7 linked regions of the Homo sapiens genome follow. The protein of the gene in region 1 purifies or fractionates together with the protein of each later gene. This does not show direct contact. Each region holds a gene or a part of one and is shown in the gene's direction. Other genes may lie near its edges.

Region 1 (3,500 bases):
AGTTTAGCTAAACTTTTTGTTGGTTCTTTTTGTGTTAAGATATCTTAACTTTTCTTTAGGTGGTGGAGATACCTGGGATGGTATGTGGATTGCTTTTTGACAGCATCCTTTTTGCATCTTTTTGTTTGCTAATGTCTAATTTCTGCTTTCTTTTTTCTAACCTCAGTTTGTTGGCATGAGAGTGTTTTTTTCTCTTAAAAAACCCCTACAACTAATTGGATTGATATTTTTTTTGGTGGTTTTTTATTTCGTTGACAGGAGGTATAGGTTAGGTTATTTTAAACTAATAGCACTGAAAACACAGTTGACATTTTAGTAGTAACATCTTTGTTCTTTAAGATGAATGCTAAAGAGTGGAAATTCAATGATAAGGGGACAGAAGTCCCAATTAAACATAGCTCATAGCAAATGGTGCCTTTGACTTTGTAGAAAGTCATTTTGTAGACTTCTTAACCTGAAGCTTAGTTGGATATGAAATGCAGTTCTAGGAGCCATATGTTGATATGAAGACAAGAGTTCTTTTAGCCATATGTTGCAGTTAGAGTGTTCATTGCTCAGGTTACCAGTAATAAACCCTGATTGGTTCTTGGTGGTTCTGGATAAATTGCTTACCGGGAGCCAGCACATTTGGTGGTGTTTTTTTTTGTTTTTTTTTTCCCCACAGTGCATGCCAGAGTTTTTGAAGCTAGTCATTGTTTCACACATTTCATAGTATACTATTAGCGTGGTAACATTTCTCCCAGATATTCAGTATCAGTAGAGTGTTAACATCATAAAGAAGCTGAGTTGTTTGGTTGGATTTTGAAATCTATAGAATTTAGAGAGTCCTACTACTTAGTAATTCCTGCACTCATTTTTCAGGGCCACTTATAGGGTAGGACTTGACTAATTTTCAGGGAGAATGAGGAGTTCTGAAAGGCTTTTTTGGTTTATTTTCTGGAGTTTGATCCTACTTAAATAGTTTGAAAATGTTGGTTGATGAATGTGAATATTGAACTTCTTAGATAATTTTTTAACATATATCCAAAATTCTTGCTTTTGCTTGTTAATGTCAGTGAATGGCAGCTGTCAAATCAAGCCTTCCTCTAAAGCAGTGGTTCTCAAGTGAGGATGCCCAGGGGATATTTGGCAATATCTGGAGGTATTTTTTATTCGGAAGACTGGGGGTAGGTGCTACAGGCATCTAGGACTGGAGGCCATGGAGGCTGCTAAATACCCTATAGTGCATCAGATAGCGCCCCACAGCATAGAAAAGCATTTGGTCCAAAATGGAGACAATGCCACTGCTGAGAAACCCTGCTCTATCAGTTCCATGTGGTGCATGGGGCTTCCAAAGGGAAATTTCGAGTGAGGGACGGTTTGACATTCCAATTCAACTGCCTTCAATGGTAGAGGCCCTTGGTTTCTCCTAAGAAACTTGGGGTTGTCTGCGAGAATCTGGAATCCCAGAAGAGACCCAGTCTTGGGCAGGGATGAAGAGATCCCCCTTTCCCAGGAAGGTTTCCTGGTGCTGTTTCTCTCCTGCCTGTCTGTTCATTCTCATAACGTGGCACTACCTAGAAGCACATGCTTACTCTTCAGAACAGTGCCTTGTGTGTATTTTTGGTTCAAGAGGGATGCCTGGTTGAAAACTTGTGCCGCTAAGGGCTTGTCTCTCTACTTACATTGCCTGCTGTTCCCCACTATAGTGAAACTATTACTTTGTCAAAGAAGAATGTTTGAGTTGGTGTGGATTTTCCTAAGAGCGTTTTAATGTTTTTCTCTGCTCAGCTTTATAGAGATTAAGAGTCTGTTTTGGTGCTGCTCCTGCTTCTTAATTAATATTAGAGTTACATGACTCTTAGACTTTATTTGTAGGATTACATTTTAAAAATACAGGTATTTATTTTGTGCTCTTAGTCCCCTCTCCTCAGTGTTTTACTACTTTTGCTGTAGTTAATAGTCAGTATAGTGAACTTCACATAACAACATTCCATTAGAAGAAATTTCCTGGGGTTGTTTTCCTTTCCTTAGTAAGCATTATATAGTATGTTTCCTACCCTGAAAGAGGTTTCTCTACTGGGAAGGGACTTTTAAAAATGCTTTGAGAATTAAATTGACATGATTCATATCAGTAGTCCAAATTGATGTTTGAACCATTTCAAAAGTAGCTTCTTTTGCAGGCCTTCTCTGAGGATTTTGAAAAGTTATTTTATATTATTTTATATTTTATATTTATTTTATAAGTGTTTTTCAAAAAGAGATTGCCCCAGCCTAGGCAACATAGCGAGACCCCGTCTCTAAAAAATAAAAATAAAATGGTAGTCAGGCATAGTGACGCACCCCTCAGGAGGCTGAGGCAGGGGATTGCTTGAGCCCAGGAATTTTAGGTTACAGTGAGCTATAATTGCACCACTGTACTTGAGCCTGGGTGATAGAGTGAGATCCTGTCTTGAAAAAAAAAAAAGATGGCTGGGTGCAGTGGCTCACGCATGTAATTCCAGCATTTTGGGAGGCTCAAGCAGGTGGATCACCTGAGGTCAGGAGTTCAAGACCAGCCTGACCAACATGGTGAAACCCCGTCTCTACTAAAAATACAAAAATTAGCTGGGTGTGGCAGCGTGTGCCTGTAATCCCAGCTACTCTGGAGGCTGAGGCAGGAGAATCGCTTCAGCCTGGGAGGCAGAGGTTGCAGTGAGCTGAGATTGAGCACCACTGCACTCCAGCCTGGGCAACAGAGCGAGACTCTGTCTCAAAAAAAAAAAAAAAAAGACATTGACAAATGTGTTTTGTTTTCAAATCCTTCTATAGCTCACCAGAACAAGCTAGAAGAAATGATCAATGAGCTAGCAGTGGCGATGACAGCTGTAAAGCACGAACAGGAATACATGGAAGTCCGGGAGAGAATACACAGAGCCAGTAAGTGAATGCCGTCACTTTGCAGCAGTGTCTGATGGTGAAGGTTGTTTTACTCAACAGCTTGCTCGTATTTTCCTCATTTGGAAACTTTGCAAATTTTATGTGAAAGCATTGACTTTAAAAGTGTACCTACACGAGATATTTTTTGAGCATACACATGTGTGGAGCTTTGTAGTTTATTATTGGGACATTCATTGTAAACTAGAAAATGCTATTAAGATTTAGTACAAGTTTTTAAGAGTTTAGTTTTCTGGCCGGGCATGGTGGCTCACGCCTGTAATCCCAGCACTTTGGGAGGCTGAGGCAGGCGGATCACCTGAGGTTGGGAGTTCGAGACCAGCCTGGCCAACATGGTGAAACCTCGTCTCTACAAAAAATAAAAAAATTAGCTGGGTGTGGTGGCGTGCACCTATAGTCCCAGCTACTCGGGAGGCTGAGGCATGAGAATCACTTGAACCGGGAGGCAGAGGTTGCAGTGAGCTGAGATTGGGCCACTGCACTCCAGCCTGGGCAATGGAGCTAGACTCTGTCTCAGGGAAAAAAAAAAAAAAAAGTTTGGGTTTTTAAAAATGTATGGTGAGCTAAGGAATAAGCTAATTGTT
Region 2 (2,548 bases), on another chromosome or scaffold:
GACTCAAGTATCTCTCTCTTCTTTCCCCTCAGACGATTGCCTACAGCATTTTATGGGACTTGAAGTTTTTGATGAGGTATGTGCATTCTGGTTGGTTTTAGTATACGCTCCTTCTACAGGTTGAGCATTGCAAATCCAAAGTCTGAAATGCTCCAAAATGGGAAAAATCTTGGGCACCAACATGACGCTCAAAGGAAGTGCTCATTGGAGCATTTCAGGTTTTGGATTTTCAGATTTGGGATGCTCAGCCAATAAGTATATAATGCAAATATACCAAAATCTGAAACACTTTGGGTCCTAAGCATTTCAGGTTAGGGATACTCAATCTGTATTTCTAAACTCAGTTAACTATTGGTTTGAGTAGACTTCTCTGGGTCTAAACCAAGCTTGTCCAGCCTGTGGTCCACGGGGTGAACATGGCCCAACACAAACTCAAAAACTTTCTTAAAACATTGAGAGTTTTTTTTGTGATTTTTAAGTTTTATTTTTTAGCTCATCACCTATCATTAGCATTAGTGTATTTTATGTGTGGCCAAGACAGTTCTTCCAGGGTAGCCCAGGGAAGCCAAAAGATTGGACCCCCCTGTCTAAATTGTGCCTCTTAGAAACAGGTTCTGAAGAGGATGTTGCAGAGCCCCTAGAATAGTAGAGACTGAAGCCGTCTCTTCTGACCCTTATTTCACGGGTGTGGGGACTCCGGGTCTGAGTGGAGGACAGACCTGACCACGGGGACCCAGCTGGTCAACACTGAAGCTGTGACTAGGACTCGGTTGTGTGTGTGTTCAGGTAGCCTGTCACTGTCGAGTTGTAAAGATACCTCTGTCTCCTGAGCTATGTAAGGTTTTACATGGGTGTAACTCGAGTCTGAGGTCCTGTGCGCATGCCTGCCTGGTCCTGCTTGGCAGATCACTGGGTTTGGAGAAAGGGAAGTAAGGGCCTTCTTATACTGGCAGCAAGGTCTCCCTGCACCTGGTCTCACAGACAGGCCAGATCCTGGTGAGGCTTAGCTTCCAGCCCACATATCTGTTCCTCAGGAACCTGGCCCTGGGAGGAGGCCTGTTGCTGCTCCTAGCAGAATCCCGTTCTGAAGGGAAGAGCATGTTTGCGGGCGTCCCCACCATGCGTGAGAGCTCCCCCAAACAGTACATGCAGCTCGGAGGCAGGGTCTTGCTGGTTCTGATGTTCATGACCCTCCTTCACTTTGACGCCAGCTTCTTTTCTGTAAGTATTCCTACTTGCCTGAACCGGTCTGGTTTCCTGTGAATGCTGTCCCTCCCCCACCCCCTCCCTGCTCACCCCTCCCTGGTTGGGTATTAACCACAGCCTGGGGGAGCTGCTGAAATGGAGCAAACTTTTTTTTTTTTTTTTTTGAGACGGAGTCTCGCTCTGTCCCCCAGGCTGGAGTGCAGTGCGTGATCTCGGCTCACCGCAAGTTCCGCCTCCCGGGTTCACGCCATTCTCCTGCCTCAGCCTCCCGAGCAGCTGGGACTACAGGCGCCTGCCAACACGCCTGGCTAATTTTTTGTATTTTTAGTAGAGACAGGGTTTCACCGTGTTAGCCAGGATGGTCTCGATCTCCTGACCCCTCGTGATCTGCCTGTCTCAGCCTCCCAAATTGCTGGGATTACAGGCGTGAGCCACCGTGCTCGGCGGAGCAAACTTTTTGATCCCATTAAAACAGACCAAAACATCGTCAATCTCTTGTGTGTCAAGCCTTCTTTCCAGCAAATGAAGGCCAGAACCTCTGACCTTGGTGGAGTGTGCTTGGCCCTTGGTTGGCCAAGGCTCTCCACCCGGGCTCCCCTTACTCTTCTTTCTTTCCTCACTGTTCGTATCTTTCTCAAGTAATTCCTGTGTGTCAGGTGTCAGGGGCAGGCCTCCAGGAGCTTCCAGAGCACACCTCCGGAGCTGACTGAGAGCCCTGGCCGGGTAGTGTCCAGGAAGAGCTCCTGGCGCCATGGAGAGAGGAGAGAGGATGTTTCTGGCCTGGATGGCTGGGTGGGCCAAGAAGCACTTGGGAATTTAGTTATGGATTAGAGATTCATCTTGGTAAATCACAGCCTGTTACTAGTTGGGAACTTCAGTCTTCCCCAAACCTTCCACATTTCAAAGCTGGTGCTTTATTGCCTCCTGCCTCCCTTTGGCTTTTATCTCCCTACTTGCACCAGCAGCCGTCTCAGCAGTAGCTACATCAGCCTGATGGATAGAGACTTCATGACGTGCAGCAGCTGGAACTTTTGTTTATAAAGCATCTCTTTTCCTCACATTTATTTTGAATTTCTTACGTTTCAACCTATGCAGATTGTCCAGAACATCGTGGGCACAGCTCTGATGATTTTAGTGGCCATTGGTTTTAAAACCAAGCTGGCTGCTTTGACTCTTGTTGTGTGGCTCTTTGCCATCAACGTATATTTCAACGCCTTCTGGACCATTCCAGTCTACAAGCCCATGCATGACTTCCTGAAATACGACTTCTTCCAGACCATGTCGGTGATTGGGGGCTTGCTCCTGGTGGTGGCCCTGGGCCCTGGGGGTGTCTCCATGGATG
Region 3 (3,500 bases), on another chromosome or scaffold:
AGTGCTCAGTTACAGTTCCTTTTGCTTTTAGTCTTACACTCCCTCCTCATTTCCACATTACTTAGGTACTTCCCTCCCCACCCCTCTTGGCGGAGTTGTGTCCTATATGTGTAATACAATTGGTTTCTTCTGCCTCAGCCTGCATTCCATAGGGCCTCATCAGTTATTTTTAAAATCGCATATATTAAGGTTTGCTCTTTGTGCTTTAAAGCTCAGTGGATTTTGACAGAGGCATCCACAACTACAGTACTGTACAGAACAGTTGCACTGCCCCAAGAAATCCCTGTGCTTCACCTTCTAACTCTCCACAACCACTGGTCTCGTCTCCATCTCGGAGGTTTTTCCCTTTCCAGAATGTCATATCATTGGGTTCATACAGTCTGTAGCCTTTTCATACTGGCTTCTTTTGTCTAGCAATATCCATTGTATCCATTGAGTGGATTGAAAGTTCATTCCTTTTTTTTTTTTTTTTTTTTTTTTTGAGACGGAGTCTTGCTCTGTCGCCCAGGCTGGAGTGCAGTGGTGCGATCTCGGCTCACTGCAAGCTCCGCCTCCTGGGTTCACGCCATTCTCTTGCCTCAGCCTCCCGAGTAACTGGGACTACAGGCGCCTGCCACCACGCCCAGCTAATTTTTTTGTATTTTTAGTAGAGACTGGGTTTCACTGTGTTAGCCAGGATGGTCTCGATCTCCTGACCTTGTGATCTGTCTGCCTCAGCCTCCCGAAGTGCTGGGATTACAGGCGTGAGCCACCGCGCCCAGCCGAAAGTTCATTCCTTTTTCTTTTAATGGTATTTATCATGTGGCTATACTGGTAAGTCGTTTAAGTTTCTTAATCTGTAGGTTCTCTCTTCATTCCTTTCTTACAGTTTTTTGCTTCTACTTTATCTGTTGAAAAACTTGGGCCTTGTGACTTGTTGACTTCCCTATAGTCTGGATTTTGCTGTTTGCATACTCAACAGTGGAAGTTCAAAGTGTTGTGGTTTGTTTTTTTTTTGTCCTATTTCCTACAAATTGGTAGCAGGGTCTCCTATTAAGGCTTTTCCTGTATTTAGCACACAGACTTGATCACCTTGGTATTAAGCGGATGGAAGCTTAGGTAGGAAGTAAACTCAGTTTTCAAGGATTAAAATGACCCGCCTAATGGATATGTGAGTCTTTTTCTTGCCTCTTGTTTTATGTTGGCCAGTACCTGTAGCAGAGGGTGCTGAAGAGTAGAAATTGAGATAGAATTGAGTGTGAGTTTTATTATTATATGTTAGCAGCTCTGGTAAGAAACTCAGAGAATTAAGTGAGAATGGTAGATTAAAATGAGGCTTTAGGATAATGTGATTGCTCCCCATACATGTGTAATTGACAGTTGTGTGAGGTGAGCTCAATTTAAAGGAAGACTAGCCTAAGCTGGTCAGTACCAGGAGGATTTTGCCCCAGTTTGCTTCCGTCCAAGTGTGTGTCCCTCAGCACAGCATCTCTTGGGCTTCCTCATTTCCTGTTTATGATAATAGAGTACTCACCCCCATCCTTGAGGGATACATTCCAAGACCTCCGGTAGTTGTCTGAAACCACAGATAATACTGAACCCCATTTGTATTACGTGCAAACTTTTTTCCTTCATAATTTCATGGATAGATTTGTTCTTACTGTAGATCTTAGCAACCTTGTTATTTGATATTGTTTTCTTATTAAGAATTTTTACCTTTTCACGTAAAAGAAGCCCTTTATGGCTTTTCTTTGGCATATCCAAATTGCAGCATCAGTACTCTTGAGCTTTGGGGCCATATTAAGCCAAATAAAAGTGGCTTGTGTTCACTTTTATCCGTGATCACATCCGCAACAGTTGATGTGATCAGCAAGACAGCTACCAAGTGACTTAACGGGCAGGTGGCCTAGATGGCACGGAGAAGCTGGACAAAGGGATGGTCATGGGACAGAGCGGGATGTCACTCAGTTTCATCATGTTTCTCAGAACGGCGGGCAGTTTAAAGCTTATGAATTGTTTATTTCTGGCATTTCCATGTTACTATTTTCAGACTGAGGTTGACTGTGGGTAACTGAAACCACAGCAAGCGGAACTGTAGGTAAGGGAGGACTGCTGTGATATTTTATATTTCATACGTAATTTCCTTCTGGTTTTGGTAGTTGGGATACACTTTTTAGGTAGGCCTGGCAAGTAAGTCTCCTGACCTGTCCAAGGACATCACCGGCAACTGCTGGGTCCCAGCCTTGAAATGAGGTCAGTCTGAGGTCTTGCCTTTGCTGAATGAAATTACCCCTTCTGTAAATTGAAAGGTCTGGAGTCGCTGTACCCTTAGATTGATTTTGGCTCCGAGATTGAGGGGCCTGAGTCTGGAAGCTGAGGTTTTTGAGGTTGGGGAACTTAATTTGAGAAGATTATCTAATTTTGGCAAAGTCTTTAGCTTTTTAGTGCCGTATTTTTTTTTTCATATAAAGGATAGAATATTTAGGCCGGGCACGGTGGCTCATGCCTGTAATCCCAGCACTTTGGGAGGCTGAGGTGGGTGGATCACTTGAGGTCAGTAGTTCAAGACCATCCTGGCCAACATGGTGAAACCTCATCTGTACTAAAATACAAAAAGTTAGCCGAGCATGGTGGCACGCGCCCGTAGTCCCAGATACTCGGGAGGCTGAGGCAGGGGAATCACTTGAACCCGGGAGGCGGAGGTTGCAGTTAGCGGAGATTACGCCACTGCACTCCAGCCTGGTGACAGAGCAAGACTCCTTCTCAAAAAAAAAAAAAATTATACCTGTCCCTTCACTTATGTCAGTGTTTGAGTCCTTGAAAAAGTCACTGAAGAGAATGCACAAGAATTAAACTTACCTTCCTAAGATGCTCAGGTTTTAGACCAGTAGGAAGTCATGGGTAATGTGTGAAAAGTGCACTAGCTCTTAAGGTGGTGTGTCATGTTTGCACACTTTTAAAAGCTGGACTCAAAATTCAGTGTACTGTTGAGTCATCCCATAGGGTAAGTCTGGTTGACTACAAGGGCTCTGCCCCTCTTGCTCCTCCGCATCCTTCTTGGGGTGGGAGGTAGTGTGAGTGGGGAGATAAGAGGACAGGATATTCAGAGGAATATTCTTAATATCGGGACCAAATTAATGAATTTGGCAGGGTGTTTCTGTACTGCATAAGATCAACAACAATTAAATAATTGATCCTCTTCTAATTCCTGTCACATACAAATCCTAGTTATGTTTCAGGATTTGCTTGCAGTCTACTGAATCTACTTGAATTAATTTATAGGAGAAAAGGATTTAATTCAGAAATCATTGCAAGGGCTATGGAGTAGTAGATTCTAGGTTGAATTTCTAGGAAAACCCGCCAGCCTGGGGAATCCTGCCTCTGCAGGAGCCACCACACCAGAAAGTGGTGTGCTGGGCTGCTTAAACAGTGCCACCCCTCCACGGTCCATGTCAGCCTGTGGATGCCCCCACTGGGCCTCTCTCCTTAGCTTACTCACCAACCGCATCGTCTGCAAATGT
Region 4 (4,103 bases), on another chromosome or scaffold:
TTTTGCCACTGCACTCCAGCCTGGGCGACAGAGGGAGATTCTGTTTCAAAAAGAAAAAAAAGAAACGGCGTCCAACATGATCAGTCATTAGATGTAACTATGTAAAAGTCAGCTTTAGATTAGTTTATATGGTATTATTACAATTTCAGGCTCTTTAGTTACATATTGATTTTTAAACTCCCTCACTTTGTTCCTTCCCTCTGTTTTTTTTTTCCTGCTCTCATAACTTTATCAGGCCTTTGAAAAGTTCATGGGTCCCAGACACTGTGTGGGAGGGTGTGGAAGTGAGTGTGGATGTGGGCTGCGGTGGAGATAGGTGTGTGTGTGAGACCGTGAATCACAGTGACAGGTAATGCAGGGTGACTGTCTGAGGCCTGAGAGTGGGGCCCATGTGCAAGCCCAAGAAAGTGGCTGGTGTGAGAATGAGGGTGTTCAGACTATTGAAGGGTGTTTGGATGAAAGAGGCAGGTGCGTGTGTGTCATGGTGAGTTCCCAGAATCCAGATAGAGAATGAGGGTGAGGATGGTGAAGGTCAGAGGGTGAAGGAGTCTGATAAGCTGAGGGTCCCTGTGTGACTGTGATTTCTGCAGGCACATGGGTGTGAGGCTTGAGAAACTGGGTGCATGGATGATGGTGACCAACAGGAGGGTGAGAGTGTTATGTGTGTGTGCAGGACTCACATGTGATTGTGAATGTTAGATGTTGCAGGCAGTGAGCAGTGGCAGGTGTGTGTGTAGGGCCTGGGCGTGAATATGCACGTTGGTGCAAGAGTGAGTGAGAATGACTGACTGATGGGGTGAGCGTGGCCGGGTGCCCGTGTGATTGTGCATGTCAGATATTGGTGGGGATGAGTGTCACAGCGCGCGTGTATAGGGCTGGGATGTGATTGTGAATGTGGGATTTTGCGGGGGGTGCGGTGGCAGGGTGCGCGCACGGCGGGCGTGGGCGGGGGGCGCGTGGCCGGGTGGGCGCGCGTGGGGGGCGCGGGCGCGGGCCGGGGGCGGGGACACTGCAGCGGTCGCGGCGGCGCGGACACGGCCCGGCCGCCCCCCGTGGCAGGCGCGGCGCGGCGCGGAGCGAGCGGGCGCAGCGCGGAGCTCGGGCCCATGGTGCGCCCGTGTCCGTCGGTCGGGCCGCGCGGGCGCTCCGCGCGTGGCCCGGCGCTCGCGAGCTCGCCCCCTCGCTGCGGGCCCGGCCCGCCCGCTGCCGCCGCCTCCTCCCCCGGGGCGGCGCGGCGCCGGCGGGCGGCGGCGCGGAGGCCGGACCGGGCGGCGGCCCAGGCGGCGCGGGGGGCGCGGCGGCCAAGGCGGGCGGCGCCGCCGACATGACGGACAACATCCCGCTGCAGCCGGTGCGCCAGAAGAAGCGGATGGACAGCAGGCCCCGCGCCGGGTGAGTGGGCCTGGGCCCGTGTTTTCCTTTGTCCGCGCCTCCCGGAGCCCGGCGCTCGGGCCAGCCTGGCCGGGCCTGACAGGTTGGCCGCGCGCCGCGCCCGGCGCCATGAGCCTGGGGCAGGGCTGGGGAGGCGGGGAGGTGGGGAGGGGGTCCCTGCGCTTCAGCCCCGGGCGGCACCTAGCCTGATGCCGGCCCTTTGGGGTTCGAGCGCCCGGTTGCCTGGGCCTCCTTGCCCACCTTCCTTTAGAAACCCCGAGAAGCCGGGCCCGCCCCAGTGCTGTTTACACACTCGCGGAATTCGGATCAGCCGTGCTTTCTCACCGTTTTATTGTTCCGTAATTAATATCTGTCCGTAATTAATATCTGAGGTAACAATTTGGTCAGTGTCACACCGAGCTCTGCGCTTGGAGCATTACTCGGGAGCCCAGATATGCTCAGCTTTTAGGGGGGCGCGGCCTACGCCTCGGGGTACCCCATCAGCGCCCCTGGGTCCCAGCCCCAGGAGGCTGCGCCGAGACCACCTGCGCTCCGGTGGCCCCTTCCCCCTCCGCCCGGGGTGGACCCGAACCAGCAGTCGCAGGAGGGTGGGAGGGTCTCCTACTGGCCGCTTGGTGACACTACCCCTTGTGTTCTCCCCCCACAATTTCGGGGAAGGAATCCCACGGCTGGGACAGGGGCTGCCACCTGCTGTGCCCTTCCCGCAGTAGGAGACCCCGAGGGCAGCTTAGGCGCGGAACAGGCAAGGGTTTTTCTGCATTTGGGAAGAGGGGACGGGTTGGTATTTTGCGCCTCGCCGTCTTCCTGTTCGGAGGATGGCAGCGTGACGCGTTGAGGTTTGCGGGGCTCTCGTATCGCCTGCCATAGACTTACCTGGGCGTGAGGGGCGGGGGTGGGAAGGACGGGGGTGGGCGCTGGTGCAAATGCAGATTTCCCGGCCCCCGCCTAGACCCGCCAATCAGAGTTCTGGGGGGCGGGGCCTGGAGATGTGCAGCTCCACAGGCCGCGCAGGTGAGGCTGGAGCCCGCGGGAGGCTGAGCGCGGTGTTGGGCGGGGCCTGCGGCCGCTCTGCTCCGCCCTTCCTCGGGCGTCTGGTCCTCTCTGGGCATTTCCCGGTGGCGGCCGCTTATTGCAGCGTCAGTTGCTCGGAACAGGAGACGCGGCGGGTGGAGTGAACCATAAGGGTGGCTTCACCAGGTGTCAGTGGAATTAAAAAAAAAAAAAAAAAGAATGGTGCTGGCGGCCATTTTGTGGGGTCTTTGTCCCTGGCTTCCTGAATCCTCCGAAGAAGAGGCCTCACTGATATTACCCAGAGGAGGAAACTGGAGGTTACGGAGGTTAAGGGCTATAGGGAAGACTGCAAAATGGAGATTGAACTCCGGATTGTCTGACCCAAAGATAGTTCCCTCACTCCTCCCTTCTCTGTTTTGCGTTTATTATTATTAGTATTATTATTATTATTGAGACGGAGTCTCCCTCTGTTGCCCACGCTGGAGTGCTGTGGCGAGATCTCGGCTCACTGCAACCTCCGCCTCCCGGGTTCAAGCAATTCTCTGCCTCAACCTCCCGAGTAGCTGGGATTACAGGCGCCCGACACCACGCCTGACTAGTTTTTGTATTTTTAGTAGAGACGGGGGTTTCACCATCTTGGCCAGGCTTGTCTTGAACTCCTGACCTCGTGATCCACCCACCTCGGCCTTCCAAAGTGCTGGGATTACAGGCGTGAGTCACCGCGCCCGGCCTCCTTCGTTTTAATGATGACAATTGACTTGAACACTATGCCTGGAACAGTGCCTGGTACATCGTACATCCTCCGTAAATACTGTGATGAATTAATATGATCAGTGGAGTCTAAAATCCAGTGGTTATTAATTTGTGCCATGAGCAATTATGAGACGCCTACTATGTGCAGGAGCCACTCCAGCTGATGGGGATGCAAGGATGAATTAAAGAAGACCTGCCCAACAGGTGTGGGTGTCCTGACCCTGGCTGTTCATTGCAATCACCAGGGAAACTTAACTAGCCTTTTCTGATTCATTCTAGACCTTTGAAATAAGAATTTAGGGTGGGACCTGGGTTTCTATCTATATATTTTAATAAGCTCCCCTGATGATTTTAACATGCAGTCAGAGTTGAGAACTTTTGAGTCAGTACATGAAAGAAAAATGCAAATATTGTTCAAAAGTGATCATTAGCGTGATAGAAACATGAGCCGTTCATATGGAGAGCCAGAGGGAGTGGTGCAGATAATTTTATTTAAAAGTAAGTTTTCTAGGTTGCGTTGGAATGGAGCATCACAGCCCCTTTAGAATTTACCAGCTTTGGAACTAATCTTTCTTTTTTTTTGAGACGATGTAGTTTCACTCTTGTTGCCTGGAGTGCAATGCCTTGGTCTTGGCCCACTGCAACCTCTGCCTCCTGGGTTCAAGCGATTCTTCTGCCTCAGCTTCCCAAGTAGCTGGGATTACAGGTGCCCACTACCACTCCCGGCTAATCTTTGTATTTTTAGTAGAGAGAGTTGTTTCACCATGTTGGCCAGGCTGGTCTTGAACTCCTGACCTCAGGTGATCCACCTGCCTTGGCCTCCGAAAGTGCTGGGATTACAGACGTGAGCCACCGTGCTTGGCCTGGAACTAATCTAATTCTGTTTTTTTTTTTTGAGATGTAGCTTCACTCTTGTTGCCAAGGCTGGCACGATCTCGGCTCACTGC
Region 5 (3,500 bases), on another chromosome or scaffold:
TGCAATAGCACAGTCTTGGCTCACCGCAACCTGTGCCTCCTGGGTTCAAGCAATTCTCCTGCCTCAGCCTCCTGAGTAGCTGGGATTACAGGCGTGAGTCACCACGCCTGGCTAATTTTGTATTTTAGTAGAGACGGAGTTTCTCCATGTTGGTCAAGCTGGTCTTGAACTCCCAACCTCAGATGATCCACCTGCCTCGCCCTCCCAAACTGCTGGGATTATAGGCGTGAGCCACTGTGTCCAGCCTTTCTTTCAGTACTTTAAAGAAGGTGTTTCCCTCTTCTGGCCTATATTTTTTCCCTAACAATTGGTCAGTAGTCATTCGAATTATTGTTTCTCTGTATGTAAAGTATCATTTTTCCATGGAAATTTTAAGACTTTCCTTTTATCCTTGTCTATGAAGTACTTAGTTATAGTTTTCTTTGTCATTTTCTTGCTTGCTTTTGTTGAGTTTCTTACGTATATAACGTTATGTTTGAGAAATTTTTGGCCATTTCTTAAAATATTTTTTCTTCCCATTCTGTCCCTCGTCTCTTCTGGTACTCCAATTACACGTATATTGAACCTTTTAATATTGTCCCACATGTCCCTGAGGTTGTATTCATTTTTTTTTTCAATTTTTTTTATTCTTCTGTCTTCAGATTGGATAATTTCAGTTGATTTATCATCCTCAATTCACCAAGACTTTCTTCTGTCGTCTATATTCTACTGTCAAGCCTATCACATTGAAATTTTCATTTCAGATATTATGTTTATTAGTTCTGGAATTTCAAACTGGTTCATTATTTTTTTTTGTTTGTTTTACTAAGATTTCCTTTCTTCTCATTCATTATGAGCATATTCATTTATGTCCTAAGCATAGATATAATAGCTTCTTTATTAAAATTCTTGTTTGCTACTTACAAAATCTGCATCATTTTATGGCTAGAATCTGTTGATTATATTTTTTTTCCTTGAGAATGGGTCACTCTTTCCTATTTCTTTATGTGTGAATGGTTTTGTTTTGAATTCTGGATGTCGTGTTTTGTTCTCAAGATTTTATTTTGTTATTTCTAAAATTTCAATTACTTTTTATCAGACAGTAAGTTGGACTCAAACCCCAAACTCTGGCCTATGATAGAGAGGCATCAAAACTCAGTTCAGTTATTTTTGCCTTAGCTGGGCTGCTTTAAGTCAGTCCAACAAATACATTGTGCCATTGTTCAGTCAGAAATTTCAGCTAAGTTTATACACAGAATTCAGGGCTCCTCCTTCCTAACTCTTTTTCTTCTCTCTGATCTCCCTCCTCACATCCTGGCAGCTATGTTTGTCCCAAACTCTTCTCATTCTTCAAGCCAGAAATATCTGTGGCTATTCTATTGGAATTTTACTTGCCCTGCATACTGCAAACTGGGAACTTCCCTCAAGATAAAAGCCATAAAAACCCTAAATTCATCCCATGCTATTTATTTTAAACATTGAATGAAGATTTCGGGGTCAAATATGCTGTAAAGACCCTCATGGCTTAAAAATTCTACAATTGTATGAAAATTTTATAGAATAATATCCATGGAGAATAAAAAATATATACAAAGACATAAAACTAAAGATGTGACATAATTAGATATATGCCTATCCTTAGGAAAACCAAAAATTCTGGATGTATAAATTAAGCCAAGGGAATTTTTATTATACTTGGAAAACAAAAAACAATTTTATAAATCTTCTTCCTTTCTTAAGAGGTACATATTCCTTTGCCTCTATTCCTCTTTGTGGAACCTCTCTTCATGTTCATTCTCCTTCAGGAGAGAGACCATGTTACTTGGTGACATTAATCTAATCTTGTAATACTATTTGTTTGTGAACCTGAAAATGTTCTTTCTTATGCTATAGACTTGGGATTTCTATCTTTGTAATCCAGGCTTCAATCTTAAATTTAAAAGCCAATGAACTTGATATTTGTGTGAAATATTTTATTTCTTTTTCTAAATCTTTAGATAAAACACTTTTCTTCAAAGATTACCTAGGCAGATAAGTAGATGTTATTTTTAAAGTATTTTCATGGCTGGAGAACTTCTAGAAGACAAAAATGCTGGAGGCTATCTGGGCGTTAGTGTGAGAATTTTCTGCTGGAGAATCATTAATTTGTTGTCTTTCTACAATTTAGGCAGTCACTGAGGAGAATATTGCTTCTTTGCAGAAGAGAGTGGTAGAACTAGAGAATGAAAAGGGAGCCTTGCTCCTTAGTTCTATAGAGCTGGAGGAGCTGAAAGCTGAGAATGGTATGTATAAAAGAAAACCATAATTCTCTGTCTTCTTATCCCACAAGTGCCTCTACTTTTATCACTAATTATGTATAACATGTAGAATTCTCTGATTCCGTGATAATAAAGATTTAGATAATAGAGCTGGTAACTATCAAAGATAATACACATTAAACAATTAGAGCATAGTATCAGTGTTTACATAAGTATAACATTTTGCAATATGGACTATACATGCTGCAGGATTTCTTTATAACTCATAATCATTTTGGAATGGTCATCGTATCCTATAGGAAGTATGGCTTGAACAGGACCTTAATAAGATGATTTTTAAAATAGGTAAAATGAAGAAAGAAAGGACATTCTGGTAATAAATTTGTGGGATGAGGTAACAGAGATCAGTATAAAGGTTTAAAGGTAGAAACTATGTTGTGAGTGAGTGGTTTATGCTCGTGCTGTACCCTGCTTAGAATCCTGCTCCTTTCCTTTAGTCTGGATGATTGTTACTCATCTTTCAGGCCTCGACTAGCATATTATCTTTTTCAGGAATTTGGTATTGGTCCCCAAAAGTTGGGTTAAATGATTTTTTTGTGCTTCCATAACATCCTTGTATACTTTTAACATTGTATTAAAATGATCTGTTTATATGTTTGTCTTTTTTACTATATTATAAGCTCTTCAAAGTTTAAATATAAGCTCTTCAAGGGCAGGGGCCATTTTTTTTTCCATCTTTGCTTTACCCAAAACTAGTATACCACCTGGCAAATAATGGCTACTGAATAAAGTTTTGTTGGATTGAACTGAACTTAGCATTTTATCCTATTGGATTGTGTGTGAACAGTTAGTGAGAATGAAGACGTGTCTCCTTCCACTTATCATATGCTTCATGTAGACTTTATGGATTTAGTAGCGTGTCGTTAATGCTTTATTGATCTAATTCATCTTTAACTGACTACTACACTTTATCATCTAGGAGTGAGAATGAATAGCAAGTAAAGGTTGTAAAACTTTTATTAAACTCTAGAGCCAGTATTTCTAACTTAACCATTTTACAGTTTTCCACTTAGATCTAAATGGAAGCTTATGCACTTGTATTAGACGATTCCCACTATTTCTAATAAGTAAAGAACACCACAAATTCAGCTCATTATTTAACCCATTCAGAGCACTTCTTTGAGACCTTATCCATGATGCTTATTTTGCAGTTTTGCAAACAGTCTGTATCCTATCCATGTGGCTTCACATGGTTTGGAGGTA
Region 6 (3,426 bases), about 67 Mb from region 1:
GGCAGCTCACCTTTGTGCTGAAGCTGCCCTACGCCTGGTCAAACCTGGAAATCAGGTAAGCTATTTTATCCAATTCCAAAGCTCGTTTGAACCAAAGATGCATTAGGCACCTATAGCTACTCTATATGAAACTACCAACCTCCCCTACAGACCCCTTATAAAACAGCTTTTTAAAATTAGCTATATTTAGCTGGGCACAGTGACTCACATCTGTAATCCCATCACTTTGGGGGGCCAAGGTAGGAGGATAGCTTGAGGCTGGGAGTTCAAGACCAGCCTGGGAAACATGGTGAAACCCCATTTCTACAAAAAATACAAAAATTAGCTGGGCGTGGTAACATGTGCCTGTATTCCCAGCTTCCAGGGAGGCTGAGGTGGGAGAATCACCTGAGCCTGGGAGATTGAGGCTGTGCTGAGCTATGATCATGCCACTGCACTCCAGCCTGGGCAACAATGAAACCCTGTCTCACAAAAGAAAAAGGAAAAATAAGCATTTGCTGTCCCCACAAAACAGATTAGAATGCCAGGTAAAAAAGGATAAACACTGGACTTAATATTATAGGCATGTGGTGGCACATGCCTGTAATCCCAGCACTTTGGGAGGCCAAGGTGGGAGGATTGCTTGAACCCAGGCATTTGAGACCAGCTTGGGAAACATAGCGAGACCCGTCTACAAAAAGAAAAAAGAAAACCCAGGTTTATGACCAAGTTCTTTCACTTAACACTCATTTAACCTGGGGCAAATCATTTAACCTGAGACTCAGTTTCCTTGTCTTCTAGATTGGGATATACATCTGCCCTGTTCACATGCAAAATTTATTGAGTTAGACCATCTTTGTGAAAGCACTGGGTAAAATGATATGCAGTTACAGCTGGTCCTCAGCTTGATGCTACATTCAGTAGAAGCTATACTTTGAGTACCCATACAACCATTCTGTTTTTCATTTTCCATATAGTATTTAGTAAATTACATGAGATATTCAACACTAATATAAAATAGGCATGTGTTAGATAATTCTGCCCAACTGTAGGATAATGTTTTTTAAGTGCTCTGAGCACATTTAACATAGGCTAGGCTGTGATGTTAGGTAGGTTAGGGGTATTAAATGCATTTTTGACTTAGTGATATTTTCAACTTATGAGTTTTTTGGAGATGTAACCCCATTGCAAGTTGGGGAGCATCTGTATAAAGTATTTTTAGATTGTAGGGATAATCAAGCTATGAAATGAAAAACCAGTGAATGACAATCATTGGGGCTTGATGGAGGATATTAGAACGCTCAGTTCTGCCAGGTGCAATGGCTCATGCCTGTAATCCCAGCACTTTGGGAGGCTGAGGTGGGCAGATCACGAGGTCAGGAGATCGAGACCATCCTGGCCAACATGGTGAAACCCCGTCTCTTCTAAAAATACAAAAATTAGCTGGGCGTGGTGTTGCGTGCCTGTAATCCCAGCTACTCAGGAGGCTGAGGCAGGAGAATAGCTTGAACCCGGGAGGCAGAGATTGCAGTGAGCCAAGATCACGCCACTGCACTCCAGCCTGGTGACAAAGCCAGACTCCATCTCAAAAAAAAAAAAAAAAACGCTCAGTTCTTTTATGCTTCTTATTCTCATTGTAGAGAACTTATTAGCTCCTGATATCTCACCTTTCATTTGATGTTGTACTTCTAGAACACACAAGTGACAGAAGCCTGGAACAAAGTTGCCCACTCATTTAACTGCACGCCAATAGAAGGTGAGAACAGATAACAGGGTTGAGGGTCTAAGAATGAGTGGCTTTGCCAGGTGCGGTGGCTCACGCCTGTAATCCCAGAACTTTGGGAGGCTGAGGTGGGCGGATCACCTGAGGTCAGGAGTTTGAGACTAGCCTGGCCAACATGGTGAAACCCCGTCTCTACTAAAAATATAAAAATTAGCTGGGCGTGGTGGTGGGTGCCTGTAATCCCAGCTACTTGGGAGGCTAAGGCGAGATAATCGCTTGAACCCGGGAGGAGGAGGTTGCAGTGAGCCAAGATTGCGCCACTGCACTCCAGTCTGGGCAATAAGAGCGAAACTCCATCTCCTCCATCTCAAAAAAAAAAAAAAAAAGAATGAGTGGCTTTGCAGAATTGAGGCTTTTGCTCCCTTGAAGATCTATCCTGGCTATAACCCAGTCTAAGCCAGAAATCTCAGAGCCCTGTGTTTCCATAACCAGGTAGTTGTCTCACTGCCTACCACTTCAAACTACTGAAGTGGGTGGATTTGGAAACCTTTTGGGATACTGGATAGCTTGTTCCATAGGTTGTGTACTATCTACAGGTATGCTGTCACACCAGTTGAAGCAGCATGTCATCGATGGAGAAAAAACCATTATCCAGAATCCCACAGACCAGCAGAAGTAGGTGCCAACCCTACTTATTACCTTCTACCACACAAGACTAGTCATCAGGTTTTTTTCTATACTCCCAACTGAATCTTGTCCGCCCTCTACTCCATGTTTTCAGGAGTGACCTGTTGCTCTTAATATTCCCTTTCTCTAGGCCGGGCGCGGTGGCTCACGCCTGTAATCCCAGCACTTTGGGAGGCTGAGGCGGGTGGATCACCTGAGGTCACGAGTTCAGAACCAGCCTAACCAACATGGCGAAACCCTGTCTCTACTAAAAACTACAAAAATGAGCCAGGCCTGGTGGTTTGTGCCTATAGTCCCAGCTACTTGGGAGGCTGAGGCAGGAGAGTTGCTTGGACCCGGGAGGTGGAGGTTGCAGTGAGCTGAGATTGTGCCACTGCACTCCAGCCTGGGTGACAGAATGAGACTCTGTGTCAAAAAAAAAAAAAAATTCCTTTCTCTCTATTCCTTTTAGGAAGGACCATGAAAAAGCTGAATTTGAGGTACATGAAGTATATGCTGTGGATGTTCTCGTCAGCTCAGGAGAGGGCAAGGTGAGGAGAGTACCAGAGTTGGCAAAGAGGGGTGACTGAGAGTGTTCACCAGACCAAATGTTACTTAAATTACTCTTTCAGGCCAAGGATGCAGGACAGAGAACCACTATTTACAAACGAGACCCCTCTAAACAGTATGGACTGAAAATGAAAACTTCACGTGCCTTCTTCAGTGAGGTGGAAAGGCGTTTTGATGCCATGCCGTTTACTTTAAGGTACTAAGCAATGATAGTACTTGGAACCAGTCTGACTCACAGACCATACACCCAGGAACACTTTTTCCTCTCCCTTCCTGCCTAGACTTGTAGCGTGCATGTGCTCACTCCCTCCCTCTCTCTCCCCATCTCCTTCTCATTGAAGGTAATGTAAAAGAGCAATCCTAAGCATGATTTCTGCCTGAGGGTAGGAGCTATTTTAAAATATGAGCAAAATGGTAAGACTTGATGGGGAGTTAAAGATACCTCTGAATATCATCTTCCCTGCCAGAGCATTTGAAGATGAGAAGAA
Region 7 (4,114 bases), on another chromosome or scaffold:
GCCGTCCGAGCGCACCTCCATCCGCCCTCGCGACGCCCACGCTGGCCCAGACGCGGGATTTGGGGTGGAGGACGCTGGGCTGGGAACCAGCACCTTGGGACGGCCGGGTAGTTCGGGCCTTGAGGAGTCCCACACCCTGACAGCTGGCGCCCCCCACGCCCCGCCTAGCTCTCCTCGGCCTGGGGACACCGGCTGCCAGGCCTCTCCAGTTTCAGCCTTTCCTGGGAGGACTTCCTGGAAGAGGGGGCTTCAGGCCCCAGAAAGAGAGGCTGCTCTGGGGGATGGAGGAGGTGCTGGGATGGTGACTCCGCGGAGTCGAGGGTGTGAGGCGGGATGTGGGCAGGCCGTGAGGTTTGTGTTGCAAGACTGGGAGGCAGGATGAGGGGAGGCCATGGGGCGGCTGGAGGTGCGGCCTGGGAGCCCTGCGTGCTGGGCCCTGGGCAGGGACGGCAGGCGAGGCGTGTGGAGGAAGAGCCGCGAAGAGCTGGGCGCTGTCTTCTCCACGCCTCCGTTTCTTCATCTGCTCCTGGGGCCGCCTGCCCGGTAGCGGAGATTGAATCGCATGTTGACGTCTATTACGATGATTAATGTTCTTGTCATTCCCGTCACTAGCAGGTGAGAGGCTGGGAGGCCTCAGGTGGGAACATACCTTTGGCCAAAGGCACCAGGTAACCCGAACGCCCCGGGGAGGACCCCTGCCTGCATCGCCGCGGCCGTCCCCCCCTACCCCGTCCCCAGCAGCTCCGGCTGGGCGAGGCCCTGCTTCTCCCTTCTGCTCCCGAAGACCCCCCGGGGCGCAGACCTGGAAGCCTCGAAGCTCCCGCGGCCGTCCAGTCCGCCCCCTTCTGAGCAACCAGAGAGCGGTCTGGGCCCGGCCCGGGGCTGCGCAGAGGTCAGACTGCCGCGGGCAGGGCCGGAGCCTGCTCTGGGGGTCGCGGAGGTGTCTCGAGAGTTGAGGACCCGACCCGGGCGCGCGCGGGCGCAGGTATGGGGAGGGCGCGGCGGCTCCTGGCCGGTCCTAGGAGCCTGCGGGGACCAAGGGCGCGCGGGCGGGGCCGGGGGCGCGGCGAGGCTCGGGTTGGGGCGGGGCGGGGGCGGGGGCGGGGCCGGACCCGGGGAAGCCGCCCGCCCGCGGGGACGTCCGCACCGCGAGGGTTAAGGCCGGGAGCCCGGCGGGGCGGGGGCGGTGTGCGCGCGCGGATTGGGGAAAAGTTTGGCGGCGGGGCGGGGCACGGGGGAGGGCTGACGCGCGCGGATTGGCCGGAAGTTGTGCCGGGGGCGGGTCGGGGGTCCGGGCTCGGCGCTCGCTCCGGGAGAGTTGACAAAGCCCCGCAGGGAAGGACGCCTCGCGGCGCGGCGCCCCGGGCCCCTCGCCCCGCCGCCCCGGGATCCCGGCCCCGGCCCCCGGCCCCGCGGACTCGCCCCCGCCGCCTGCCCGGTCCGGGACCCCGCGCCCCGAGCGCCCGAGCCCGGACCCCGACCCGGCCCGAGCCGCCCGCGCCCAGGTAGCGCCGCCCCGCCCCGAGACCGGGCCCGGGGGCGCGGGGCGGCGGGATGCGGCGCCCGGGGCGGCGATGACCGCGGAGCGCACGCCGCGGGCCCGGCCCTGACCCCGCCGCCCGCCCGCTGAGCCCCCCGCCGAGGTGAGCCCCCCGCGCGCGCGGCCGCGACCCCAGGTGGGCACACGGGGGAGGGCGGGGGTCCGGGGCGGGGGCGGGGAGGGGCGGGTTCGGGGCCCCAGCTGGGCACGGGTCATGCGCGCCGCCGCCGCTCCTGCGGGCCCCCGGCCTGCCCCGCCCCCGCCCCCGCGCCCCACGTGGGCCCCCCCCAGCGCAAATTTGTCCGCTAATGGCGCAGGCGATTATCTGCGGGGCGCTGAGTGTTGTGTGTCCTGCGGGCAGGGCCGGAGTTACAAGCGCCAGGAATCCAGACGGTGTTTGGAGAGGGGGGGCGGCGGGGGAGCCCGGTAATTAGTGTAAACCCTTTGTCTGCCTTTGATACCCACAGCTTCTCCCCGCTGCGGCTTCCTCCGCCTGGAGCGCGGGCGGGGAGGGCCTGTGGGGAGGGCGGCCAGACCCCTGATCCCCGCGGCCCGGGACCGGGGAGGGCGGTATCTCCCAGTTCCACGTGTTAGTGACGGCGCCCCCAATGTCCCCAGGTCCGGACAGGCCGAGATGACGCCGAGCCCCCTGTTGCTGCTCCTGCTGCCGCCGCTGCTGCTGGGGGCCTTCCCGCCGGCCGCCGCCGCCCGAGGTGAGTTCTGGCGCCCAGCCCGGCCAGCCTGGCCTCCGCCAGCGCCGCCCCCTTCCCGCCCGGCCCTGAACCCTGCCACAGTGCCCGCCTGGCACGCGCCATGCCCCGCCCCTGCCGCCCCGCTCGCCAGGCCCCCTTCCTTCCAGGGCCCCCTCACCCATGGGCTGTCCACAGCACCCACCGGGGCTCCCCTAGCTGGCTGGAGGGGTTCCCCTCATGCGTGCTTGCTGGCCAGGTGGGCTTTAGTCCTGGCTCCCCAGGACATGCTCCTGGTCTTGCAAACACTTTCATACTCGTACCTGCAGTCCAGGGCAGCTAATCACCTGTGGATTCTTGGGGAGTGGGCGGTTTGTGGCCACAGTGGACCCGATAAGGACTCTGGGAACCTGCAGAGACCCCCACGGAAGGCAGGATGGGCTATGGGAGATATTGGTAATATACTTGGTGTCTGGGACTGAAACTGACCCCCAGACCCCCAGTCCCCCAGCCGACCTAGCCGTGTGCCCTGGGCCTGCCCAGCTCTAGGCAGGCAGTGCCGGGCGGTTGTGTGGACAAGTCCCCAGAGCCGTGACGCACCCCAGGACTGCGTGCCTCTGGGCACACGCTGTGCTGGCCTGGTACGTGCTCATGGCACCGACATCTAAGTGGCAGCCATGCCCTGGGACCCAGCCCCAGCAAGGACATCCGGAGCCGATGGGTGACGTGTGCCCGCAGACTCATGCCCGCCATGTTCCAGGATCCGGGCACAGCGCTGGCTGCCCCCATGGCTAGGCGGGACCTGTGGCCAGGCCGGCCCTTTGGGCGTGTTGACCACTCAGGATTGTCCGCGCTGTGTCCACCAGTCCTGAGGCTTCGCACCCCTCCCCTGCCGCCCAGCAAGCGCGCCGCATCCAACCTGGCCTTATATGGGCACGTTCGGGTGCTGGGTGGCGGGCGGTGACCAGGTGGGCCTTATGCCACAGCACCCCCCCCTACCCCCCGCCTGCCCACATGGGCCTGGCTGAGCGGCTGCTCTGAGGGCCCGGCAGCGTCCTGGGCTGTGTGGGCACTCAGGCCATACTGGGCGAGCCCCTACCATGGCCAGCGGCCTGGACTTGCATTCTCTTTGATCTGTTTGGCCTCCCCAATCCCTACACCTGCCTGTCCTCTGGCCACTCGGCCAGGGAGGCTCTGGAGGCCTCTGTCCTGCCATGTTTCCTGGCTGGGGCTGAAGCTGACTGGTGGATGGCCACGGTCAGCCATGGCAGTGGGCGGCAGAGCCCGCCTCTTCGTGGAGACGCCCCAGCGGCCACCCCCTTCGCCTTCGTCCTCCTCAGCTGCGGCCTTGGGGCTGAGGATATCCAGCCCTGGCTTTGCGTGGCAAAGGCCCTGGCGGCACTGGGGAGCTGGGATCAAGCTGCTTTCCAAGGGCAGGGGCCTCTGTGGTTTGGGTGGAGGTGGGGAGGAGGTTCTTCCGGACTGTGCTGATTTTCCTAGCGTGGACTAGGGCGCGAGGTCCATCCAAGTGTGTTTCTCCTGCTCTGAACAGCCCACTGTGCACCTTCGTTAGGCCAAGGACCAGCATGCAGAGGGCTTGGGTTATTTTTGAAAAGCCATTTCCCGCTGGGTCATAAGTTCTGGAATCGGCACATCGCTACACTCAGATCATATTTTAAAAGTTCCTCTTTTCCCAAACTTTCACAATCTTGGTGGATTTGTCTTAAACTGCTTTTTTTTTTTCCAATTTGAAAAAATATAGGAATTGGCTTTCTCCCTTTCCATTTTATTTCTCACAGTGGGAACTTGAGAGGTTCTGCATGAAATGTCTTTCACAAATAACTCTGAAGGAAGTCGTTTCAGGGCTTTCTGAGAAGTGCCACCT

What was found.
Region 2: the proteins of TMED2 (region 1) and SURF4 purify together in Homo sapiens (co-immunoprecipitation; 2 studies listed by BioGRID and IntAct, with this or other methods). This does not show direct contact.
Region 3: the proteins of TMED2 (region 1) and USP22 purify together in Homo sapiens (affinity purification with mass spectrometry; 2 studies listed by BioGRID and IntAct, with this or other methods). This does not show direct contact.
Region 4: the proteins of TMED2 (region 1) and ATP9A purify together in Homo sapiens (co-immunoprecipitation; 3 studies listed by BioGRID and IntAct, with this or other methods). This does not show direct contact.
Region 5: the proteins of TMED2 (region 1) and GOLGB1 purify together in Homo sapiens (co-immunoprecipitation; 3 studies listed by BioGRID and IntAct, with this or other methods). This does not show direct contact.
Region 6: the proteins of TMED2 (region 1) and PA2G4 purify together in Homo sapiens (affinity purification with mass spectrometry; 2 studies listed by BioGRID and IntAct, with this or other methods). This does not show direct contact.
Region 7: the proteins of TMED2 (region 1) and FGFRL1 purify together in Homo sapiens (affinity purification with mass spectrometry; 2 studies listed by BioGRID and IntAct, with this or other methods). This does not show direct contact.

Annotation. Positions count from the first base shown.
Region 1 is NC_000012.12:123,587,552-123,591,051, forward strand, and holds part of TMED2 (transmembrane emp24 domain-containing protein 2 isoform 1 precursor), read left to right. Parts: intron 1-59; coding exon of another isoform or gene 60-80; intron 81-2,790; coding exon 2,791-2,898; intron 2,899-3,500. UniProt on the Homo sapiens protein: Involved in vesicular protein trafficking. Mainly functions in the early secretory pathway but also in post-Golgi membranes.
Region 2 is NC_000009.12:133,363,513-133,366,060, reverse strand, and holds part of SURF4 (surfeit locus protein 4), read left to right. Parts: intron 1-32; coding exon 33-76; intron 77-1,034; coding exon 1,035-1,221; intron 1,222-2,301; coding exon 2,302-2,548. UniProt on the Homo sapiens protein: Endoplasmic reticulum cargo receptor that mediates the export of lipoproteins by recruiting cargos into COPII vesicles to facilitate their secretion.
Region 3 is NC_000017.11:21,033,012-21,036,511, reverse strand, and holds part of USP22 (ubiquitin carboxyl-terminal hydrolase 22), read left to right. Parts: intron 1-3,500. UniProt on the Homo sapiens protein: Deubiquitinase that plays a role in several cellular processes including transcriptional regulation, cell cycle progression or innate immunity.
Region 4 is NC_000020.11:51,765,591-51,769,693, reverse strand, and holds the start of ATP9A (probable phospholipid-transporting ATPase IIA), read left to right. Parts: upstream 1-1,303; 5' UTR 1,304-1,324; coding exon 1,325-1,392; intron 1,393-4,103. UniProt on the Homo sapiens protein: Plays a role in regulating membrane trafficking of cargo proteins, namely endosome to plasma membrane recycling, probably acting through RAB5 and RAB11 activation. Also involved in endosome to trans-Golgi network retrograde transport.
Region 5 is NC_000003.12:121,701,242-121,704,741, reverse strand, and holds part of GOLGB1 (golgin subfamily B member 1), read left to right. Parts: intron 1-2,146; coding exon 2,147-2,261; intron 2,262-3,500. UniProt on the Homo sapiens protein: May participate in forming intercisternal cross-bridges of the Golgi complex.
Region 6 is NC_000012.12:56,107,559-56,110,984, forward strand, and holds part of PA2G4 (proliferation-associated protein 2G4), read left to right. Parts: coding exon 1-55; intron 56-1,671; coding exon 1,672-1,735; intron 1,736-2,298; coding exon 2,299-2,377; intron 2,378-2,840; coding exon 2,841-2,919; intron 2,920-3,000; coding exon 3,001-3,134; intron 3,135-3,405; coding exon 3,406-3,426. UniProt on the Homo sapiens protein: May play a role in a ERBB3-regulated signal transduction pathway. Seems be involved in growth regulation. Acts a corepressor of the androgen receptor (AR) and is regulated by the ERBB3 ligand neuregulin-1/heregulin (HRG).
Region 7 is NC_000004.12:1,010,312-1,014,425, forward strand, and holds the start of FGFRL1 (fibroblast growth factor receptor-like 1 precursor), read left to right. Parts: upstream 1-1,314; 5' UTR 1,315-1,643; intron 1,644-1,660; exon of another isoform or gene 1,661-1,676; intron 1,677-1,829; exon of another isoform or gene 1,830-1,966; intron 1,967-2,152; exon of another isoform or gene 2,153-2,158; coding exon of another isoform or gene 2,159-2,174; coding exon 2,175-2,253; intron 2,254-4,114. UniProt on the Homo sapiens protein: Has a negative effect on cell proliferation.